Regions from separate parts of the Homo sapiens genome. Here all the other regions are linked to region 1. The links come from fine-mapping of genetic effects on gene expression. A gene starts in region 1. Each other region holds a variant in brackets. All regions are shown on one strand. Distances are from middle to middle.

Region 1 (7,079 bases):
CATTCAAGCCTGGGCAACAAGAGCGAAACTCTGTCTCAAAAAAAAAAAAAAAAGTGAGCATACAGATAACACATAAACTTGCTGTTAGGTGTGGGAGACAACAGAAAAGTCTGGAAGGACATTTCATAAACACCTAGAAAGATTCTGCAGTGAGACTGCTTTGCAAGTGACTTTAAGTATTCATTCCATGTTAAAAATACCATAGATAACGTAGGCCAGGGGCTAGCAAGCTCTTTCTATAAAGGGCCAAAAGTAAACATTTTAGATGTTGCAGGCCATGTGGTTTCTGTTGCAATCACAAATATTCAATTCTGCCTTGGAGGGTAAGAGGAGTCATAGACAATACATAAACAAATGAGAAAGGCTGTGTTCTAATAAAGCTTTACTTATAAAAACAGGCAACAGGGTCCTACACTCCAAGAAAAGGCTGAGGCCTTATGTTAAAAGAATGGCAAAAGAATGTTTATGTGTTCGTTAAAATGTTATGCATATAACTATTATCTGTATGATTCCCTGCTTTAACTTACTTCTTCAGTTAACCAACTAATGGCCCTAAGTCTGCTTTCAGTGACTGAGTGAACGGAATGTTATAGATCCCCTAGAACCTGCATTTAATTCATATTCCTATCATTATGCCTGATATAACTTGGTTATAACTTTAAACTACTAATTTTAAAATGCATGCATCATTACAGATTAGTATGGGTATACTCGTATATAAAGACTGTCATCTCTGTTGCAAAATTGCTGATAATTTGAAAATAATTATTAAAATTGCTGCTTCCCTGAGGGAGTAAGGGGAGTGGAGGGTGGAGAAAAAAAATTGCTGCTTCCTGGCCAATCTTCTGGGGGTTGACAATATATTTTATGAGTATTCTAAAAGTTGTATACTTAAGCAAAACAAATAAACAAAAATGCTTACTTTAAACTTGAGATCAAGGTTGTGCCTTACTTACCTTTGTATCCCCAGCAGTTACTCAGTAGAAGTCCAGGTCTAATCCACTCATTTTACAGTGCTTAGGGAGCCTGGCCCAAACTCAGAGTGAGTTATAAGGGCTGGGACAGGAATTCAGATTTCCTGATTCCTAGTCCAGTATTACCAATCTGAAGATACACGAATTTAGGAAGACAGTGGCTTTCTTTTTTTTTTTTTTTAGGTGCACCCAGTCCTGCAGTTCAAAGCCTGGCAAGACTCACCATCATCTTCCTCCTCCTCATACTGCTAATGAGAATCAGCAGCTGTGTTTCTACAGTGATAATCTGCGTATGCATGTTCGTGATGTTCCAATCACCAAAAAGGCTATTGATTTTAGGATTCCTGAGTACCTACAAAAGCTACTTAAACATCCAGGATAAAATCAGCTCCACCCAAGAATACAAGATAAGAGTTCAAATATTCCCTTGGCCATTTTTTTTTTTTAAAGAAAAGGCTGGAAGGACATGTCATAAACACCTAGAAAGATTCTGCAGTGAGACTGCTTTGCAAGTGACTTTAAGTATTCATTCCATGTTAAAAATACCATAGATAATGTAAGCCAGGGGCTAGCAAGCTCTTTCTGTTAAACATTTAGATGTTTCAGTGCTGCAATCACAGTGACCGGTGTTGGGGAGAGGGATTAGAAAGTGCCATGGTACTTAATCCAGTTACTCCCCCAACACCTCCAAGAGGTAGCCAAGTTCACACACTAAACAGAGCTACTGCAACAGTTCTAGTGCTAGTCCTTAGATTCTAGTTCCAGTTCCGGTTCTAGTGCTTAGATTCCAGTTGCATCATTCCAACTGTGAGCCTTCGCTGCTTTAACATCTTTGCCAGGAGGTGCAAAGTTCTCTGGGAGGGAGCTACCAATCATTTCATTTCAATTTCATACTGACAGATTGAAACATTCACGTAAGGGACACCTGTAGTACCAACCTGACTGTGAGGGGAAGCCCAAGAACTCCAGTGAGTCTGTGGACGCTACGCTGGGACACTATCTCCTTAGCCACACCTTGTCTAAGCCAGGACTACCCCAGGATTGTTTCGAGAATGATACCAGGTTAACCAAAGAAATACTTATGTAAGATACAGATAGGGTGGAAACTGGAGGCAGAGGAGTCCGCCACAATTGATGTTGATTTAGGGCTGTCGCAGGAAGACCCAGGGAAACCCACGCCAAAGTTGGGGTGGGGATGTGTCTGCCTCCAAAGTATCCTCCTTTCCATCACCCACCGCCAGAATATCTTAGCTCTTCTGCACCTCATCCGCGTAGAATACAGGTGGACTCTAGAAAGGGGACTTTCCTCGAGGTGTATGCTACAGTCTTTCAATAGTCACTCTGTAAGGGCACACAGTGCTTAAGGGCTGATAAGGTTCTTGTTCACCCACTAGCTCACTATGTCCTGAATCAAAGGACGAGGAATCCAGTCTCAGTCTGCCCTTTACTCTTTGTGACCTCGGACTAGTCACCCGGGTGCTTAGTTCCTTCGTCTCCCTATCTGTAAATTCTGAGATTACGAGGAGGCCGGGATTGAAATCCATGGCCTCTGAGCTCTAAAATCTTCTGGACCAGCAGGCACATGGAAGAACTGGACAAATGGCCGGTTGCATACACGGGGAAACTGAGGCACCGAGCACCCCGGCCCAAGGTCACTCTGGCTATGCCACTGCAGGGGCCGGGCCGAAGCCCCAGTCTTTAACCCTCCAGTCCCGAGCTCTTTCTCCTTCCGCGGAGCTGAGGAAAGCGGCGAGGAAGGTCCTTGTCCCGCTGGGAAAAGGACGGTACCCATGCACAGGGGTGCGAAAGAGGGGCCGAGAGAAGCCTTACCTTTCCAGGTCAAGTCCAGCCACTAGCACCTCTCTCTCCGAATCTTAACCCGTCACCCCCTCACGACTCTTCGAACGGCCCCTCCACTTCTACCCGGCTCGACGTGTCCACCACCGCCACCGAGGCCGAGGATTTCCCGCCCCCTCCCGCCCCCTAGCATTACCGACCAATCCCTGCAAGGGGCTGTGAAGCTCCGCCCCGCTGCGGGCTGGAGAGGCCTGACGTCACTCGGCGCTCGTGCCCGCGCGAGCCTCTCATTTGCCTTTGCCCCACCTTCTCCAGAGCCCAGTCTACTTTCGGTCCAGAGACCGTGCTGGAGTTCGCCCTGCCGGAAAGCAGCACGCCGCCGCGGCATTTTACGACGTCGGCGGTGACAGGCCCTGGGACTCTGGGAATACCCAGCTTCCTCCCCGCAACCCGGTGAAAGCCAACGCAATGTTCGGTGCGGGGGACGAGGACGACACCGATTTCCTCTCGCCGAGCGGCGGGTGAGTGACTGAGAAGTATGCGCTGGAGGGCGTGGCTGAGAGATACCGGCGGATTGTTGGAGGGGGGTCGATCTCTTCTCAGGCCTTTTCCCAACTTCCGGGGGGAGACCCTTGCCACATTCCGGTGCTCTACACCTCTCAGAATCTGGGCAGAACTTGCAACTGTGCTGACCCTGCCGATCTGAGGTTCGGGACCCGGCATCTCTCTTGGCGGGAAGATAGCCCTGGGTTTGCCTTTTGCATTCTGGGTCACAATTTCTCCGGTGAAATGGGAATGATTGCTGATGAGACTTCCTGCCTCAGAATTTTTATAGGAGTCAGCTGGGGCTGATGTGAGACTTCTTTTCTCCATGGAGAAGGCGAAGACACTTTAGAACCAGGCCTTGGTGGGTCAGCTCTAGCATTCTTCAAGGCCCAGCTCGGATGTCACGTTTTGGATGCTTTTCCTTCTGCAACCTCAGGCAGAATGAATTGCTTTCTCTTCCTTATTCCTGCAGCTAGGTGTGTTTGCCTCTATTCTTATACCCCGCACCTATTAGATTATGAGTCCTCACCGGACAGGGACTGCTTATGGTGTTCATTTCTGTCTAGCATGCAGCATGGTACCTAGCACATAGTGAGTGCTCAGGAAGTGGCTGTTGAATGAATAATAGCTGCGAAATTGCACTTTGTAAAGCTTAAAGCTTAAAACCAACGTAACAGACTTCTGTCATTCTCCAGTTTCCCCAAGCATTATATTAATATATACCAGCCTGGAATAGAAATCTTTAAAGAGAGGAAGGGTTTTGTCTCTTTTAGTAGTCAGTTTAGCCTTTTCCATTGTGTTGTGCCAGTGGACAGCTTGACTTCCTCCAAACTTGTGAGCTACCAAGCTCTGATCATTGCAGAGCTTTTCTTTGAACATATGCTTAACAAATTTTGTGCGTGCTGAAGAATGTACTGGAAAAATGACAAATGCACCACATATGCCCCTTATTCTGCTAAATGCTAAGAGGTTACAAAAATGATTAAACTGCTGTGCCTGCCCTTAAGTTGCTTCCAGATCTGTTGGGCCATGTGGTTTCTATTGCAACCACAAATACTCAGTTCTGCCTTGTAGGGTGAGAGTAGTCATAGACAATACATAAACAAATGAGTTAATAGATGAATGACCATAAAATGACACTGGCCTTCTTTTGTCCTTAAGTAGGAATTTTTGATTTACACTGACTAGCTCTATATTACCTACCTTTTAGTCTTTTTCACTCTCACCACTCTGTTCCCTTCCTACCCCGTCTTTAGATGGCCTGCATTCACTTAGTTCCACTTTGAGTTCTTTCCGTTTCTCAGTTATTTTACAGTTAAGCTGTGCTTTTGTTCCTTTTTTCCCTATTCCACTTTAAATTCGCATTCTTCACTATGTGAAAGTATTTGGGAGAAGTCTGTAATGTTAGGGCTCCCAATTTTCATGCAACAATCAGTCCAAGCTGACTGAAAATTATGGGATAGGTAATGACAGCCATGTGCTCTTTTCCAGATTCCTGGCCAGAGATAAATTCTTGGTGGCTCAACTATTCTTTTTTCCTGAGCAGGCTTCTCAAGGATCTGAGACACTTGAATTCTAGGCATGTGACTGTGCTCCTAGACATAGACAACAGCTAATTTGATGGTAAAAGACATACTGAGGAAAGTTATAGTTTATTTTTGTTCCCCACAGTTATCAGGAAAACCAAATCAAATTTAACACTGAGAATACAGAAAGTTTCACCACAATTCTCTGATTTAGCTATTCCTTTTTTGGTTTTCTCTAAGGAAGTAGAACATATGACAGTGAATACTGCAGCTACTTTTCACTTCCTCTTTTATAGCCATATATTACTGTAAGTATACTTGCTTAAGTTCCAAGTCTCTTGATTTAAACACATGATTTGCTTGATTTCATGAAGGATATTCAAGCCTAATAGAAGTAGGAGTATCTGATAATCTGCCTTCTGAGTTTCTAGGCCTCTTAGAGTTTACTATTAATCTAGAAGTAGTAATCAGGAGCCTTGTTTTTGTTTGTTAGTTTGTTTTAGCCCATTCCTCACCGTTGTGGGAAGTAATAGTAATGAACTAATAGTACTTGGCTTCAGCTAATCCAGATAGGAATAAGGCACAGTTTCTGCCCCTAAGAAACTTTTATTTTAGTAGTAGAATAAAATCAATCCAGGAATAATAATCACAAAGCATTTTTAAGGGGCCAATTATGTATATATTTGTTTTAGATTATAAAGGTATGTGTAGGCAGATCCGATTAGCATAGTAATGATAAATCACCAGTCTAAAGATGGTAGAAAGATAAATTAACCGATCATCAGAAAGCATTTTGAGTTCTGTAAAAGATAGGAAAAAGCCTAGATTCAAATGTTGATTCTATCCCCAGTTAGGAATGTGACTTTGGACAGATTATCTTCCATCCTTGTCCCTCCATACCCCAACCTATTCAATAATGAGGTTTGACCTAGATAAACTTTGAGACCTTTGCCAGTTCTGTAGTTTTAATGTTAATGCTAATACCAGTTTATGGTTGCAGGTCAACTTCCGTGTCAATCAAGCATGCTTTCACCCTTGCAGGGGTATCTGAGTTGAACCACATTTTGAGATAATAGGATGTGTTCACAAGTATATAAATACGTACTCTGTGCTTACTTAATGCCATACACTGTTCTAAGAAATACATAGACATTATTGTATTTATTCCTCCCTTCTACTCTATGAAATAATTTTACCTACTATGCCCATTTTACAAATGAGAAATGTATATATATATATATATATATATATATATATATATAATTGTATTTACTCCTCTCTATGAGGTACTATTAATTATTATATCCGTTTTACAAATGGGAAAGGCTCAGAGAGGTAAATTGCCCAAGATCATGCAGCTAGAAAGTAATAGAGCCTGGATCTGAAATCAGGTAGGCAGATTCTACCAGACCTGCCTATGTGCTATTGTTGTTATTATTGAAATGGATGTTTGATGTCAGTTTGTTTAAAAAAGTATTAATACTTTACCAACAAAAAGAATCTCTGTTTATTAAAATACATTGATACAGTATAAATGCATGTGTTTTTGTTTTTGATGAGAAAGAAAATATAAAACTGAGGTGAGGTGAGGTCCTTGGCGACTAAATGCATTGTCTAACATTTTTTTTTAATGTAGTTAATTCTGTCATGACTTTTCCTATGAATTATAAATATAGATTCAAGTCCAGAGTTAGCAAGCTCATTCTTGCCAACATAGGGAGATTGTGTACATTTGAGAGTTCCTTAGTAGTGGAAAAATCTAAAAATTTATTTATTTTTGTTTATTTATTTATTTTTTTGAGACAGGGTTTTTCTCTGTTGCCCAGGCTGGAGTGCACTGGTGCAGTCATGGCTCACTGCAGCTTCGAACTCCTGGGCTCAAGCAATCCACTTGCCTCAGTCTCCCAAGTAGCTGGGATTACAGGCGCATGCCACCACGCCTGGCTAATTTTTAATTTTTTGTAAAGATGGGTTCTTGCTATATTGCTCAGGCTAGTCTTGAACTCCTGGCCTCAAGCAGTCCTCCTGTCTCAGCCTCTGAGAGTGAGCCACCATGCCCTGCTAAAAATTTACAAGTAACTTATCTCCCAAGTTGATGCAGAGTCCATTAAAGATATTAATAGAAAATGGGACTGTGCGTGGTGGTTCACGCTTGTAATCCCAGCACTTTGGGAGGCCAACGCAGGTGGATCATGAGGTCAGGAGTTCGAGACCAGCCTGGCCAACACAATGAAAC
Region 2 (7,079 bases), 43 kb before region 1:
TTTCTGTTTTTAAAAATAAATATATTTTTGGAAAAATGTGAGGCATCCTTAATGAAGTATAACAGTACTGTTAATTCCCAGACTTTAAAAGATAATTGCTACAAGATTAACATCATTCTTTCCATCTTTATTAAAAGACCCTAAGCACAGGACACTCTAGTTGATCCCTGCCACTTTCACTTAACCCATCTATTCAATAAGTATTTATTGAGTGTCTACCATGTGCCACTCAACAAAGATCCCTGCCCTTGTAGAAATTAAATTCTAGTGGATATTGTGTAAATCTGAAGAAATTGTAGGTACCCGATCTCTTTACAGAATGGCTTTGTAACTAGTTTGGGTATAATGTTGGGAGGACAGGCAATGGAGGAAAGAGGAATGCTTCTAACAGTTTTGCCATTATTCCAACTTTCCTTCCTTTCTCAACTTGCCTAAGTGTTTTTCCCAGAAAGAACCAGAGAGGCAGCTCGGAGGATAATTTTGAATCATGCCCTATTGTTCTGGGCATTAAAAAAAAATTTTTTTTAAAAATTTTTATTGTTTTATGTAGAGACAGGCATCTGTGTTGCCCAAGCTGGGCTTGAGCTCCTGACATTAAGCAGTCCTCTCAAAGTGCTGGGATTACTGTGCCTGGCCTGTTTTCACTAATTCAACACAGGGAATCACCAGCTGTGATCATAAGAGCCTCTTGAATCATCAGTTCTACGGAGACTCTTAGCAGGACTTTAGCCTTTTTGGGGTAGTTTAAGTCTGAGTAATACGAGGGGGAGAGGGACAGGTGTGGTGGCTCATGCCTGTAATCCCAGCACTTCGGGAGGCTGAGGCAGGAGGATTGCTTGAGTCCAGGAGTTAGACCAGCCTGGGCAACACAGGGAAACCCTGACTCTATAAAATTAAAAAAAAAAAAAAAAGAAGGGCCGGGCATGGTGGCTCATGCCTGTAATCCCAGCACTTTGGGAGGCTGAGGTGGGCAGATAACCTGAGGTCCAGAGTTTGAGACCAGCCTGACCAACATGGAGAAACCCTGTCTCTACTAAAAATACAAAATTAGCCGGGCGTGGTGGTGCATGCCTGCAATCCTAGCTACTCGGGAGGCTGAGGTGGAGGTGCTTGAACCCAGGAGGCAGAGGTTGCAGTGAGCTGAGATTGCACCATTGCACTCGAGTCTGGGCAACAAGGGCAAAACTCCGTCTCAAAAACAAAAACAACAACAAAAAAAGAAAAATACTAACCTATTAACCTTATCAAGAAGAGTGTTACTTTTCATTCTGAAAGCTGGAGTAACAACAATTGTAGATAATAAAAAAAATACTAAGGCTCGAATACCTATTTTGTGCTAGGTGCCTAATTCAAACAGGTATTATGGCCGGGCACAGTGGCTCACACCTTTCCCAATCCCAGCACTTTGGGAGGCCGAGACGGGCGGATCACCTGAGCTCAGGAGTTCAAGACTAGCCTGGCCAACATGGCAAAAACTCATCTCTACTAAAAATACAAAAATTAGCCAGACATGATGGTGTGTGCCTGTAGCCCCAGCTACTTGGGAGGCTGAGGCAGGAGAATCACTTGAACCCAGGAGATGGAGGTGGCAGTGAGCCGAGACTGTACCACTGCACTCCAGCCTAGGTGACGGAGTGAGACTCCATCTCTAAATAAGAAAACTAAGGCTTAGGGATCATTAGACTAACTTCCTAAGGTCATACTGCTAGTAGGTGATGGAACCAGAATCCAAACTCATTGACTCCTCTAAGTCCATGTTCATGACACTACACTCGGAAGAGACTAGGAATGGTGGTGATGGCAAGATGCCCACTGGGGGCCAGTGGGAAGAGCAAGTAACGTCAGCATTTTGGCATTACCAAAGGGACTGGCAGGGTCACTGTGCATCTCAAGGTTGGGCGGTGAACTTCTTATAGGCCCAGCTCAGAGCCTCTTGCCTAACAGCAGACACAGGGAAGGGATTATGATGTGACAAAAGTTGGCTTTTAAACTGAGGAATCCTCAGTATACTGAAATACTTGTGGCTTCATGAAGACCCTGTCTCCTGTGCAGAAGGTCACATGGATCTTCTGGCATGTACTAGGCATGTCATTTTAAGTCGAGTAGGGGGAGAGTGAGATGAAAACCTAAAAGGATCATACCACCTAAAATACGGACATCTTTTTTTTTTTTTTTTTTTGAGACGGAGTCTCGCTGTGTTGCCCAGGTGCAATCTTGGCTCACTGCAACCTCTGACTTCCGGGTTCACACCATTCTCCTGCCTCAGCCTCCCAAGTAGCTGGGACTACAGGCGCCCACCACCAGGCCTGGCTAATTTTTTAATATTTTTTTTAGTAGAGACGGGTTTCACCGTGTTAGCCAGGATGGTCTCGATCTCCTGACCTCATGATCCACCTGCCTCAGCCTCCCAAAGTGCTGGGATTACCAGGCGTGAGCCACCGCGCCCGGCCACAATATGGACATCTTAAAAACTGATGGTAATGGCCAGACTCTATGCAGACTATGAAAAGACTAGCTTATTGCATTATCACTCTGGGCAGAAAGACTTGCATAGAATCACAAAATCAAAATATTTATTTTGTTCTTTTTCATATGACACTGTTAAAACATTCCTACTACAGCAATACTGCTCTCCAGGAGCTTACAATCTAAAACAGTCAACATTAATTGTAGACCCAGTAATTAAGGCATTATATCAAATGCAGACTTTGTATCTTTTTTTTTTTTTTGAGACGGAGTTTTGCTCTTGTCGCCCAGGCTGGAGTGCAATGGCGCCATCTTGGCTCACTGCAACCTCCGCCTCCTGGGTTCAAGCGATTCTCCTGCCTCAGCCTCCCGAGTAGCTGGGATTACAGGCATGCACCACCACGCCCAGCTAATTTTTGTATTTTTAGTAGAGATGGGGTTTCACCACATTGGCCAGGCTGGTCTCAAACTCCTGACCTCAGGTGATCTGCACCCCCGCTTGGCCTCCCAAAGTGTGTGAGCCACTGTGCCCAGCCCAGAGTTTCTATCTTTTGATGTATCTTTTGAAGGAGCAGCTGGAGAGGGCAGGATCAAAATTAAATCACATGAAAGTGTACTCCCCTCCGCCTGCTCCTTATAAGGAACCCCTTATGACTAGAACCCAAGACCAGTACCCACAGCCTGAAAGGGAATTTCAGACAACCCTACCATAGAAGTAGTGAAGAAACCTTAATTTCTAATCTCCTAGTGGATACAGTGAGGATTCCATTTGTGGGCAATGGGGATGCTGGGAGTTCCTCCCTCACAGACTAGAGACGGCACCTAAGATTCTGTAACTCTGGGAAGGGTACCAGCCTTATAGAAATTCCAGTGGG[T/G]CAACTGCCTCTTGAAGCATGCTTAAAGTCTCTTAACAGGTTTATAAATGCCAATTTCTGGTTGGTATTATATCCACAGCATAGCACTGTCTACTGCATCAGGAGGGCTATGGAGACTTAATATACTAGACATGCGATTAAAAAAACTGAAAGAAAAGGGAAAGGACAACAGAGTAAGGGGGCCAAAGAAATGGTGATGCAGTCTTCTAATAGATGTGAATGGGGAAGGAAGAAAAGAGAAGTTTAGATCCAAAATGAACAAAGAAGTCAAGCATTAAATTCCAAATGAACAGGTATACAGAAATGAAAAGTTAATGAAATCATTGTATTATCACAATCCAAGAGCTCAAGATGGAATTTAAGCTTTTTCTCCTTCACTAGCTTCATCCTTTGGCAGCCAGTCTAAGAATCTCTGAAATTCAGGTTTTTCAGGAGATTATCTCTATCCTGAATACCTGAAGACCTAATCTAAACTGTTATTTCTTTCTGTGAATTTCAAAGTCATAGCATTTTGTCTTAACTGGCCTTGAATTTTCTTTTTTTCTGAGACAGGGTCTTGCTTTGTCACCCGGGCTGAGTGCAGTGGCGCAATCATGGCTTACTGCAGCCTCGACCTCCAGGGCTAAAGCAATCCTCCTGCCTCAGCCTCCCAAATAGCCAGGACTATAGGTATGCACCACCATGCCTGGCTAATTTTTGATTTTTTATAGAGATAGGATCTCACTATGTTGTCCAGGCTGGTCTCGAACTTCTGGACACAAGCCATCCTCCCACCTTGGCCTCCCAAAGTGTTGGGATTACAGGCATGAGCCATTGGGTCTAGCTGGCCTTACTGATTAGGTTTTGTTGCTGGGAGGGTATTCTATAGCAGCTCATGCTGAGATTTCTAGAGAGCACCAATGTCACTACTAACTATTGATTCCTATTTATTTCTCATGGTTTTATGACTCCTTGGCTTTAGACAACAGGCTGTATTATACCTTTGTGTTGGACTTCGTCAGTACCTGTCATTCACCCTGCTCATGTTAAGTATCATCATTACAAAGTGATGGAATGAGAGAAAAGCACAAAGCTCTAAATGTTGGTTCTTGGATTTTAACCTCAATCCAGTAGGCTCATAACCCTCTCTTGGTTCAAAGCCATACAAGTCCACATTCCTTGCTCTCCAATATTTAACTGGCACCCACAGAGAAAGTACAAACTTCAAAACCACAACACAGGCCAACAGGATAGCTGTGTTTTGTTTCCTCTGCCCTGAGGCACAACTGGATCTAGCACCAAGGAGGGCAGGATTTAACAGACCAGCACAAGACAAATCAATTTAAAGAGGTAGTTTGAACCAGGAATAAGACTGCAGTGTAGACTACAACTGAACAGAATACAAATCCAATGTGGTTCTTCACTGAGAACAGGGGTTTTGGCCACTTGTAATGTAATTAAACCCCCACGAATAACAAAGATGATTATATGGAGGATGAGGATCTGCTTGGTATAAGCACAGTTGTTGGAGCCTGAGGAAAACCTGGCCATCAACAAACCACAGCCTGAGTCTTTCCAAAGAGAAAGCTGGGCTTTTGCCCTTCTGGCCCATGACTGGTAGATTTACACTGCAGATCAAAGGTCTCTCTCAACAATCAAACTACTTCCAAGAAACCATAGACCTTTAAAAATAAGGACTAGTGATTTCATACAGGCTAGTAAAAATACTTTGGCTATAGCCCTTCACACATGTGTGCTTGGGTACACATACACACAGGTGGAGCTCAATAAATGTGGAATGATTAGGTATTGATCAGCAGTATTTACTACGTGAGTTAAGTCCAGACACACCATCTACCAATCAGCAATTCAAATTTCCATGCCCAATACCAGGCAGCCAACCCACCAGGCAATATTTCCTTAGCTTAAAGCACAGATTCTCAAAAGTGTGGTCCCTTGTAACATCAGCAGGAACTCAGAAGTGCCACTTTGGGGGCTTTTGGGTTGAGGCCCAGCAATTAGTGTTTTAACAAGCCCTACAGGTGATTCTGATGCACGCTAAAGCTTGAAAATCACAGTTTTAGAGGCAGACATGCGAAAACATTATAATGGAAAAATTAATTCAAACTCTCTTGCTTCACTTCAGCTGGGACAAACCAAGGTATCAAGACAAAGTAAACTGTGAATGGTTTTATTTAAAAATATCTATTTCTATTTTCTCAAATTGATTGTCATTTTTTGATTGGCAAGTTCATGCTAATCAAAGTGTTAAGTGGGAATGCAAGTCGATGCATCAGCCATCCAAGAATACACACTCTGCAAGTTCTAAGCCTGTATTTAGTCTCAAACCACCGCTCTGCACACTACAAAGATTTTGGTATAACGTATCACATCTAGAGAAAGGCACAATGTATTTCCCACTCATTGAATCCAAAAGCTGGACCTTCTTTTCTTTTTTTTTGAGATGGAGTTTCACTCTTGTCACCCAGGCTGGAGTGCAATGGCGCCATCTTGGCTCACTGCAACCTCCGCCTCCTAGGTTCAAGTGATTCTCCTGCCTCAGCCTTCTGAGTAGCTGGGATTACAGGCGCCCACCACCATGCCCGGCTAATTTTTGTATTTTTAGTAGAGACGGGGTTTCCCCATGTTGGCCAGACTGGTCTCGAACTCCTGTCCTCAGGTGATCCAGCCTGCCTTGGCCCCCCAAAGTGCTGGGATTACAGGCATGGGCCACTGTGTCCGGCCCTGGACCTTATTTTCTAATGTTAAGTTTGAGTTCTGGGTTTAGTTGGGCAAGAATTTCCCTCAGCTGCCATCAATCCTGGCTGAAGTTAACCCCTTTCCATCACTGACCCAGGGGAAAAAACCACCAAATTTACTTACTATCTGTTAAAAATTCAAAAAGGAAGCAGATGATCAAGTCATTGAACAAAAAGCTACATGGATTAGACAAGAACATATAACTTGGCTCTAAGATGATGGAGAAGGAAAAGACATCTCATGGGTGGCTTCTCCTTAAGAGAAATGGGAATCTCAGCTTATTAGAAAAAACAATTTGGGAGGTTACTACTTTAGTTCAGAGACTGTAAACTAAACCTCTGTTGAGCAGGGGTGTGTGTGTGTGTGTGTGTGTGTGTGTGTGTACGTGCACAAAGAGGAGCAAGAAGGGATGATTGGAGCAGGAATCACGTCTTCAAGTCTTCAACAACTTCCCACTGCAATCGATAAGGCCACGCCATAGAGTTTGATGTCAATGGCAATGCTCTGTGATATCCACTACCACTGCCTTCTTCCAGCTGAAGAGGAAGTATCCTGTACCGGCCCCTGCTGCTACTGCAATGCAGAGGTACCCGTTGTAGGTCATGAAGATGAGCATGAGGAAGTAGCTTATGACCACCTGGATGATGTGCAGCACTGTTTGCAGGAGGTGAGGAAAGCTCAGCATCTGTTGCCTGGAGAGTAAACAGGGACACAACAATCAGGGACTCCTAGGAGTTCTGCAGATCAGGAGAAAGAGGGAAGAGTTCTTGCCATGAGCTCAGCTGGAACTGGACAGCCACTCTGGCAACTCATGGGTACTTGAATGTTCTTTGATTGGTCCATGGAAATGAAACAGCACAGGGCTGTCAGGCTTATAAACATTGGCCAGATATGGCTGTGGTTCCTCCAGTAGAAGGAACCCTTTTCCGGAGGAGGAGAAAAGGACGAGGAGTAATCCCGACTTACCTCCACCTTAGATCCTGAAAGGGAAGCCGTAAA
Region 3 (7,079 bases), 33 kb after region 1:
TACATCATCAGTTACGAAAAAATAAGCACACACTCCCAGTATAGGTTTATTGACAAATTATGTACATAAAGTACCACCAATCCCTGTAAGCAAACTCAGTGTCTTACACTGATAGCTTAAAAATAATAAAAATGCAGCCTGGGCAACATGGCGAAGCCCTTTCTCGACCAAAAATACAAAAAATTAGCGCCTGTGGTCCCAGCTACTTGGGAGGCTGGGGTGGGAAGACGTCTTAAATCTGGGAAATGGAAGTTGCAGTGAGCCGAGATCACGCCACTGCACTCCAACCTGGGTGATAGAGAACCCATCTCAAAAAAAAAAAAGTAATAATAATAAAAATGGAGGTTATGATCATTTCCTTCTATACCCAATAGCTCATATTGTGCACCTTCAGGTGTACTTACTTGCCATTCTGAAATTTTGGATCAGTTAATGGAAGCTTCTAGCACAGGGTCTAATGGGTAGTTAATGCCAAGTCATAGTTAAGTGAACCTGAAGTTAAAACAAAGAGCTCCTGTTTCCTTTTCTCCACAGATCTCTTCTGAATTATCTACCGAATTGCTTCAGGGTTTTGAGTGAGGGTACTGTCACCTAAAATGCCTCCCTTTCTTAACATCTCACTTTAATTTTTCATCTGTAAAATGAGACTAATTATGCCTGCTGGGGAGACTTGATTGAAATGAGGCAATGTATGTGAAACCACTTTGTCCATTCCAAAGATACAGGGAATTATTTTTACTGCTATTAATTGTGATCCATGTATACTTCTATGCAAGAAATCTTTCTCATTTTCTAGAGGAAATGTTTTTAAATAGATATGGTAGGGGGATTTGTTGAAGGATTTGATACAAGAGCCAAAGGGATAGAGCTGCCTGAAGGTGATGAGCTTTAATCACAGTGATTTTTGTGACTTTCCTCTCTTTTTAGAGTCCCGATGCAGTCAAAGCCAAGTTGATCTCTCGGATGGCTAAAATGGGCCAGCCCATGCTGCCCATCCTTCCACCACAGCTGGATTCCAATGATTCAGAAATCGAAGTATGTCCCCCTGGCTGTATTAGAATGAATAGTACAGATGTCGCCATCATCTTTCTTTTCATTTGGTTGGAGTGATTGTTTTTTCTCTAAGGCAGAATCATTATTTAGAGAGCTAATATGCAAAATGATACAGATTGGTATTGGTACATGTGTTTCTACTGTGATTAGTACTTCCCTGAGAGATGGAAGCAATTTTGTAGATCTTTTACAAGAACTGGGCAGTTTTCAGTAGTTAATTTAGCCTTCTTTACTAGAATCTCTGTTGTTACTAAAGATCACTCTCTGGGCAGCATGATGCCCAATCCATAGCAGGTGTTCAATTCATATTTATTGAGCGAATGTTTAGATTCTTTTGGGAAATGTTGGTCTTCTCGCTGATGTTGCCTATCACTAAAGCTCCAACTAGTATGTCTTTTGACTTTGTATGTGGTATTCTTGTGTTTGTTTTCTATTTAGAAGTTCAATAATTTTATTGAATTCAAGTCTGTCAATTTTCTCCCCTTGTTATTTGCTTTTGACATTATGCTTAGAAAGCCTCTCCACTTTCAGATTATAAATATCACATGTATTTTTAAAGATATTGATCAATATTTTATAATTAGATCTAAATTTTTAATCCATTTGGAATTTGGTGTATGCTATAAAGTAACTTAATTTTAACTTAATTCTTCTCTAGTGGTTAGTTCTTTATTGAATATAATCGTCCTTTCTCAATTGAAGTGAAATATATAACTTAGACTGATTTTTAGTATTCTTTTACTTTGATAGAAAACAAGGAAAGGGCGATGGTCTTGAAAAAATTTTTTCTGGAATATACTTTATATTTTACATTTTTGTTTTATTTCTTGGAAAAGCTCTATGTAGATTTAACATCTTAAAGGAAGATAGGATTTCTGAGGCCTATTGTTATAGGATTATTTTTTTCTGGTCTGGAAATGCAGTGTAAATAAGAATATTTTTATTAAAAATTTTATGTGCTACTTATTCATTTTAGAATAATTTAAAATTATAGAAAAGAAACATATTGAACAAAAAGGGCATTCATCTTTATATATTGCTTTGTAACCTGATTTTTAAACCTAATGTTGTATCATAAACATTTACATTAACATAAATGATTTAAGTAAATAAAGTGGTTTAAAGGAAACCCAGTGTTCCATTATATCATTTTATTATAATTCCTTTCACTCTGTTATTAGACATTTAGGTTGGTTAAGAGCTGTAGAAATCTAAAACTGGGATGTTTTTCTAGAAGAGAATATAAGGGGACAAGGTGAAGTTCTAAAGTAAAAGAATGTCTGAAACTTTGGTCTTTGAACTATAGCATAGCAGATTACAGTCACTGTATATTGTGCCTCAAGATTTTCTGTTTCTTATATGAAGCAGGAGGTAGAATAACTTTGTTTAGAGTTATAGCTTTGATTTTATGAAAAGCTTTGGTTTTATGAAAATAAAGAATGTTGGAAAAACATCCTAAAACTATATTATCCAAAAACAGCATGTTAATCAGGTGCAGTGAATCCTACGTTATCTGATTTTCATTGAGTACCTTGAGGACTATGGGGATGATTTGTAAGAAGCGAAGAGGCTGGATTATTTCTTGCAAAAGACCACTTTTTTTGTGGGAATAGATTAGATTTGTCTTAAGGCAGTTACTGGCTTGGAAAATGATACATTCTGAAGAGTGGTTAGTTTAGCTGCTTCAGACAATAGAACATCAACCTCTGAGAATATTTGTGGAAATTAACTATATTTACTTATTCAATATGATTATAGGGAGAAGGACTCTTACTTTATTGCATAGCAGAGTGCTTTTTCTCCACAACCCACACCCTCAACTCTTGGCCTTCCGCTTACCTTTCCTTCCTCTTCTTTGCCTAGAAATCCTGTGTTGGAAGCAGGTTTAGGGCAGACAGTCAGCCTCAGTCTTCAATGAGGGACCCCGTACAGAGTAACCCAAACGCTTGTTCCTGTTTCAGGATGTGAACACTCTGCAAGGAGGTGGGCAGCCTGTGGTGACTCCGTCCGTCCAGCCCTCTCTTCA[T/G]CCGGCCCATCCAGCGTTACCACAGATGACCTCACAGGGTAAGGAACCTCTCTGAGGCTCTGTGGCCTTGAACTGGGTCAGCATGAAAATTATCGTCACTGTTCCTTAAACTGTTAGGCTGCATTGTTTCAGTACTGAGGACTAAAGTGTAAATGTAAGAGTGTGACGCTTGTCAGTTTGTCCCTGGGTAAGGCATTTTCATACCCAGAGATGGACCTGGCTGCTGGTTGTGACTTCTGCTGTGTTGCACTGTCAGTTTTGGAAATCTGCACTCAGCTATTGAGACATCTCCCTGGGTGTGTTCTGCACTTCCTGTCGGGTGGGATCCTAGGGCTGAGTCAGAAGCACATGAGAGCACCCAGTTTCCTTCCACTGGCTCATTCCTGAGATTGCAGTAGAGCTGAGTGTAGGGAGACTAGGCAAGGAAAATAGTTGAGTCTGAAGCATGATAGTATGTAAGGTGCTAGTCTAGACTCACACCAAGAAGCAAGGGTGGATAACAGTGAAAATGTCTCCCTTTATCTTAGCACCTCAGCCATCTGTTACTGGGCTCCAGGCACCTTCTGCTGCCTTAATGCAAGTGTCATCTCTCGATTCCCACTCAGCTGTATCTGGAAATGCCCAATCCTTTCAGGTAACATTTTATAACCGTATTAATTATATCCTATAATTTGCTGTGGTTCTAGTCAGTCTCTTTTCTTCTTCCTGTACATTTCATACAGTAGCAGTTCCCCAAAGTCAGAGTTTGTAATTTTTTTCCCTTCCTTGGTTACCACTTTCTCATCTCTAAACCAGGCAAAGGATAACCTACGTTCCAGTGTCATAAAGATTAAATGCAAGAACAAGTAGAGCCCCTAGTACAACGTAGTAAAGATGCAATCAATGTTTGTTTCCTTTTCTTTTCACACATATCCAGTTGAAGCGTGTATATTCGCGTTCTTCTGTATTCTTTTCTACTAAAAGTTGGCAGGCTAACATTCTGCAGTATATTCAGCAGAATGGTATGGTTTAAAAGTGGAACCATGTGGAAAATGTAGCTTGACTCTGCTATCTAGTAAACTTTTCTTAAAGAAGGCCTTTTTCCTGTTATCACAGAAAACAATGGCAGCAGCCTGTTTGCCAGGGGTAGCAGACCCTTTCTTCTGCCTCAACACACTTGGTGGATAAGGCATACTGTCACTGGGAACAGCTGCTCACTCCTTGTGATGCTTAATGGAGGTGTGGGAATGATGGTGGATAGGCTATGCCTCATTAACATGGGGAGTCTCGAAACTGGAAAAAGTCCCACTGTTGCCCTCTTTCTCCCCATCCCTCCTCTCCTCCATGGAGAATTACTATGCTGTAGACTAAGAATTTTTTTTAAGTGGATGCGTAGTTATATCTATCCCTGGAAATGAGCTAGACTTCCTTATTTCAAGGAAGAATTACCATCCTCATTAAAATAAAAGCTGCTGTTTATTAAGCGCTTACTATCTGTCAGGCCTGTAACTTACTAGCTTTTCAGAACTTTACCTATCTCACTTCATTTAGTCCACAGAACAGCCCTATGAAGTGATATTATTATCTTCCTCTTACAGTTGAGGTGACCGAGACTCAAAGGAACATGAGAGCTCTTGGTCTCGTGGATTAGCTTCAGAATCTAGCAGGGGAGAGGCATCCTTGGAAATTGGCAGATTTGGTTTGGAATCTCAGTGAGCACTTCTTCTTTAAACTCAATGGAAGCTAAGCAGAGTTTATTAATCTAAAAACTTCTTAGACAATAGGCCTGATAATGGGGAATGAATCCCTGCTTAATTATCTCACCAGATGACTGGGTAGTGACCTAAGATACACTTTCTTCAGTTTCTGGGTAGGATTTTAGTGACTGGTTTCCCCTGGGATACATAGATAACTCTCCTGCTGCAGTCCTTACCAACTGCCAAACCCAGATCTCACCCATCTCTAGCTTCAGTAAGTTTGAGTCTCCTCCCAGCTCATCCACTTTATTCCACCAAAGAAAAATGTGAACAAAAAAGAAAGACATGAATGTTTTATCAACCAGTGGTAACTCGTCAGTTTCTCAGCCCTATGCAGGTATGCAAGCCTACGCTTATCCCCAGGCATCTGCCGTCACCTCCCAGCTGCAGCCCGTTCGGCCTTTGTACCCAGCACCGCTCTCTCAGCCTCCCCATTTCCAAGGTAGGGAGTAATTCCCTCAGTTTCTCATCTTCCGCTCTTGCTGTGCTTTCCCTCTTCTTGCTCCTCCTTCATTTTCACACCAACAGCTCTCTACTCATTGTTTCTTCTCTTTTTTAACAGCTTTGTTGAGATATAATATGTATTCCACACATTCATTCATTTTAAATGTGCAATTCAAAAGTGTTTTAGTAAATTTGCAGAGTTGTGCATTCATCACTACAATCCTATTTTAGAACATTTCCGTCATCCCCCAATGTTTCCTTGTGTCCACATTCTGTGTTTTTTTCCTTGGATTTTCTCCCCTGGCCCTTTTAATTCCTCTGTTAGAGTAGCTAGAGTTTAGAGAAAATAGTAAAAGAGCAAAACATTGGAGGAAATTGGGAGAAAGTTGAATACTATAGGTGTTTAGTATCTCTAATGAAAGCTACTCTGTTAACATTTTTAAATTATGAAAATAAGAGACTTTTATAAAAAAGTCAAGCAGTACAAAAGGGTGTAAAGTGAAGTTACTGTCCTTCCCCTCCATAAACCCCCTGACCTTGGGAAACTGTTGTTAACAGTTACTTGGGTAACTTTTCAGATATTTTGTATGCATGTACAAATGTGAGTATCTAATGTAAAAAAATCAAACCAAGATAAAGTGTAAACTGCTATGATGGAATCCTGCCTTGTTCTGCTATTAGTCTTCTGTTTAGTAATCAGCTTTGGTATTAGGACAGTGGTAGGAAGAAGCCAGTATGTCCTGCAACATAATTTGTGGTTCTGGACTGGTCAGGATTTCCTGAATGCAGCCTTTATCTGGAAGCTCTGCCCTTCTCCATCTGGGATACGCTTTTTCATCCATCAAAACTGTCATCTCCCTCTGTGAAGCCTTCCCTGACTATTCTCTGTCCCTCTTTCCTCTCTTCCCACAAACACAACTGTGTACGCGTGTCACCAAAGAGTTAATCGTGCTTTTCTCTGTGCTACTTTTATACCTAGTATATGGTCCATTGTTTTGCACTTAATACACTCTCTTGTAATGATTTGTTTACATGTCAGTCTCCCAGCCAGACTGAGAGCTCACCAAGGGCAGAAGCCGTGTTTTGTTTACTGCTGTATTCCTGGTACCTGGTACAATGCTTGGCATACAGTTGGATGAACGGGAAAGTAATCTGAGCTGCCGGTGCTGTGGCAGTGCAAAGTGGGCATATTTGTGCCCTTGGACCAGATGTAGCCCTTGATGCATTTTGCAGGAACACGGCTTAGTTATTGTTTACTTTGAAGCCCTTTTGCCTCTACTCTCTCCCATATATCTTCTCCTGACAGGGTGAAGTCACCTATAGCATTTCCTAGTGTATGGAAGTATTAATTTCTTTCTTTACTGGAAGAGCTACTAGCTTTTCTTCATACAGTTTCCTCTGCTCCAGTTTCATAAGTTTCTTTTTGGCTTGTATCTGTTTAGGATCAGGTGATATGGCTTCATTTCTCATGACTGAAGCCCGGCAACATAACACTGAAATTCGAATGGCAGTCAGCAAAGTGGCTGATAAAATGGATCATCTCATGACTAAGGTGACTGAGTCAGAGTTGGGGTGATGTTGAAAGTGGGGATGTAAACAGGGAGCAGCCAGAACTGTAGGTAAACTCTTCTTTGATTTCCTGCATTGGTAGTAGTGAGAGGTTATTTCCCTACAAGGATAGTTATAATTATGTTGGGATCCAGTTAGTAGGAGAAAACTCTAACTTAACAGTTAGAGATTGTCCCAGGAACTCATTAACCCCCTTAACAACAGGGTCAAATCTTGGGTAAATTGTATTTCTTCATTTTATAATTTCTCAC

What was found. PIP is the estimated chance that this variant, and not a neighbour inherited with it, causes the effect.
Region 2: its variant is fine-mapped to the expression of SLC31A1 in whole blood (INTERVAL, PIP above 0.99). The same link has a PIP of 0.9 or more in T cells and monocytes.
Region 3: its variant is fine-mapped to the expression of SLC31A1 in whole blood (TOPMed, PIP above 0.99). The same link has a PIP of 0.9 or more in macrophages and macrophages after interferon gamma.

Annotation. Positions count from the first base shown.
Region 1 is chr9:113,217,404-113,224,482 of GRCh38, reverse strand. It overlaps SLC31A1 (solute carrier family 31 member 1), which reads right to left and starts at 2,939. Exons shown (of 5, transcript NM_001859.4): 1 at 2,805-2,939. It overlaps FKBP15 (FKBP prolyl isomerase family member 15), which reads left to right and starts at 3,206. Exons shown (of 28, transcript NM_015258.2): 1 at 3,206-3,292. The coding sequence starts at 3,240. RefSeq lists enhancers at 2,028-2,217, 3,058-3,167, 3,278-3,407.
Region 2 is chr9:113,259,965-113,267,043 of GRCh38, reverse strand. SLC31A1 (solute carrier family 31 member 1) reads right to left here. Exons shown (of 5, transcript NM_001859.4): 5 at 2,552-6,772. The coding sequence ends at 6,571. CDC26 (cell division cycle 26) reads left to right here. Exons shown (of 4, transcript NM_139286.4): 4 at 1-52. Among named protein-coding and RNA genes, the nearest start is that of CDC26, 12 kb to the left of the region's middle. The variant T/G (reference allele first, on the strand shown) is at 3,342.
Region 3 is chr9:113,184,427-113,191,505 of GRCh38, reverse strand. It overlaps FKBP15 (FKBP prolyl isomerase family member 15), which reads left to right. Exons shown (of 28, transcript NM_015258.2): 12 at 928-1,035; 13 at 3,015-3,117; 14 at 3,607-3,713; 15 at 5,143-5,257; 16 at 6,702-6,811. Among named protein-coding and RNA genes, the nearest start is that of FKBP15, 33 kb to the left of the region's middle. RefSeq lists an enhancer at 2,772-3,971. The variant T/G (reference allele first, on the strand shown) is at 3,080.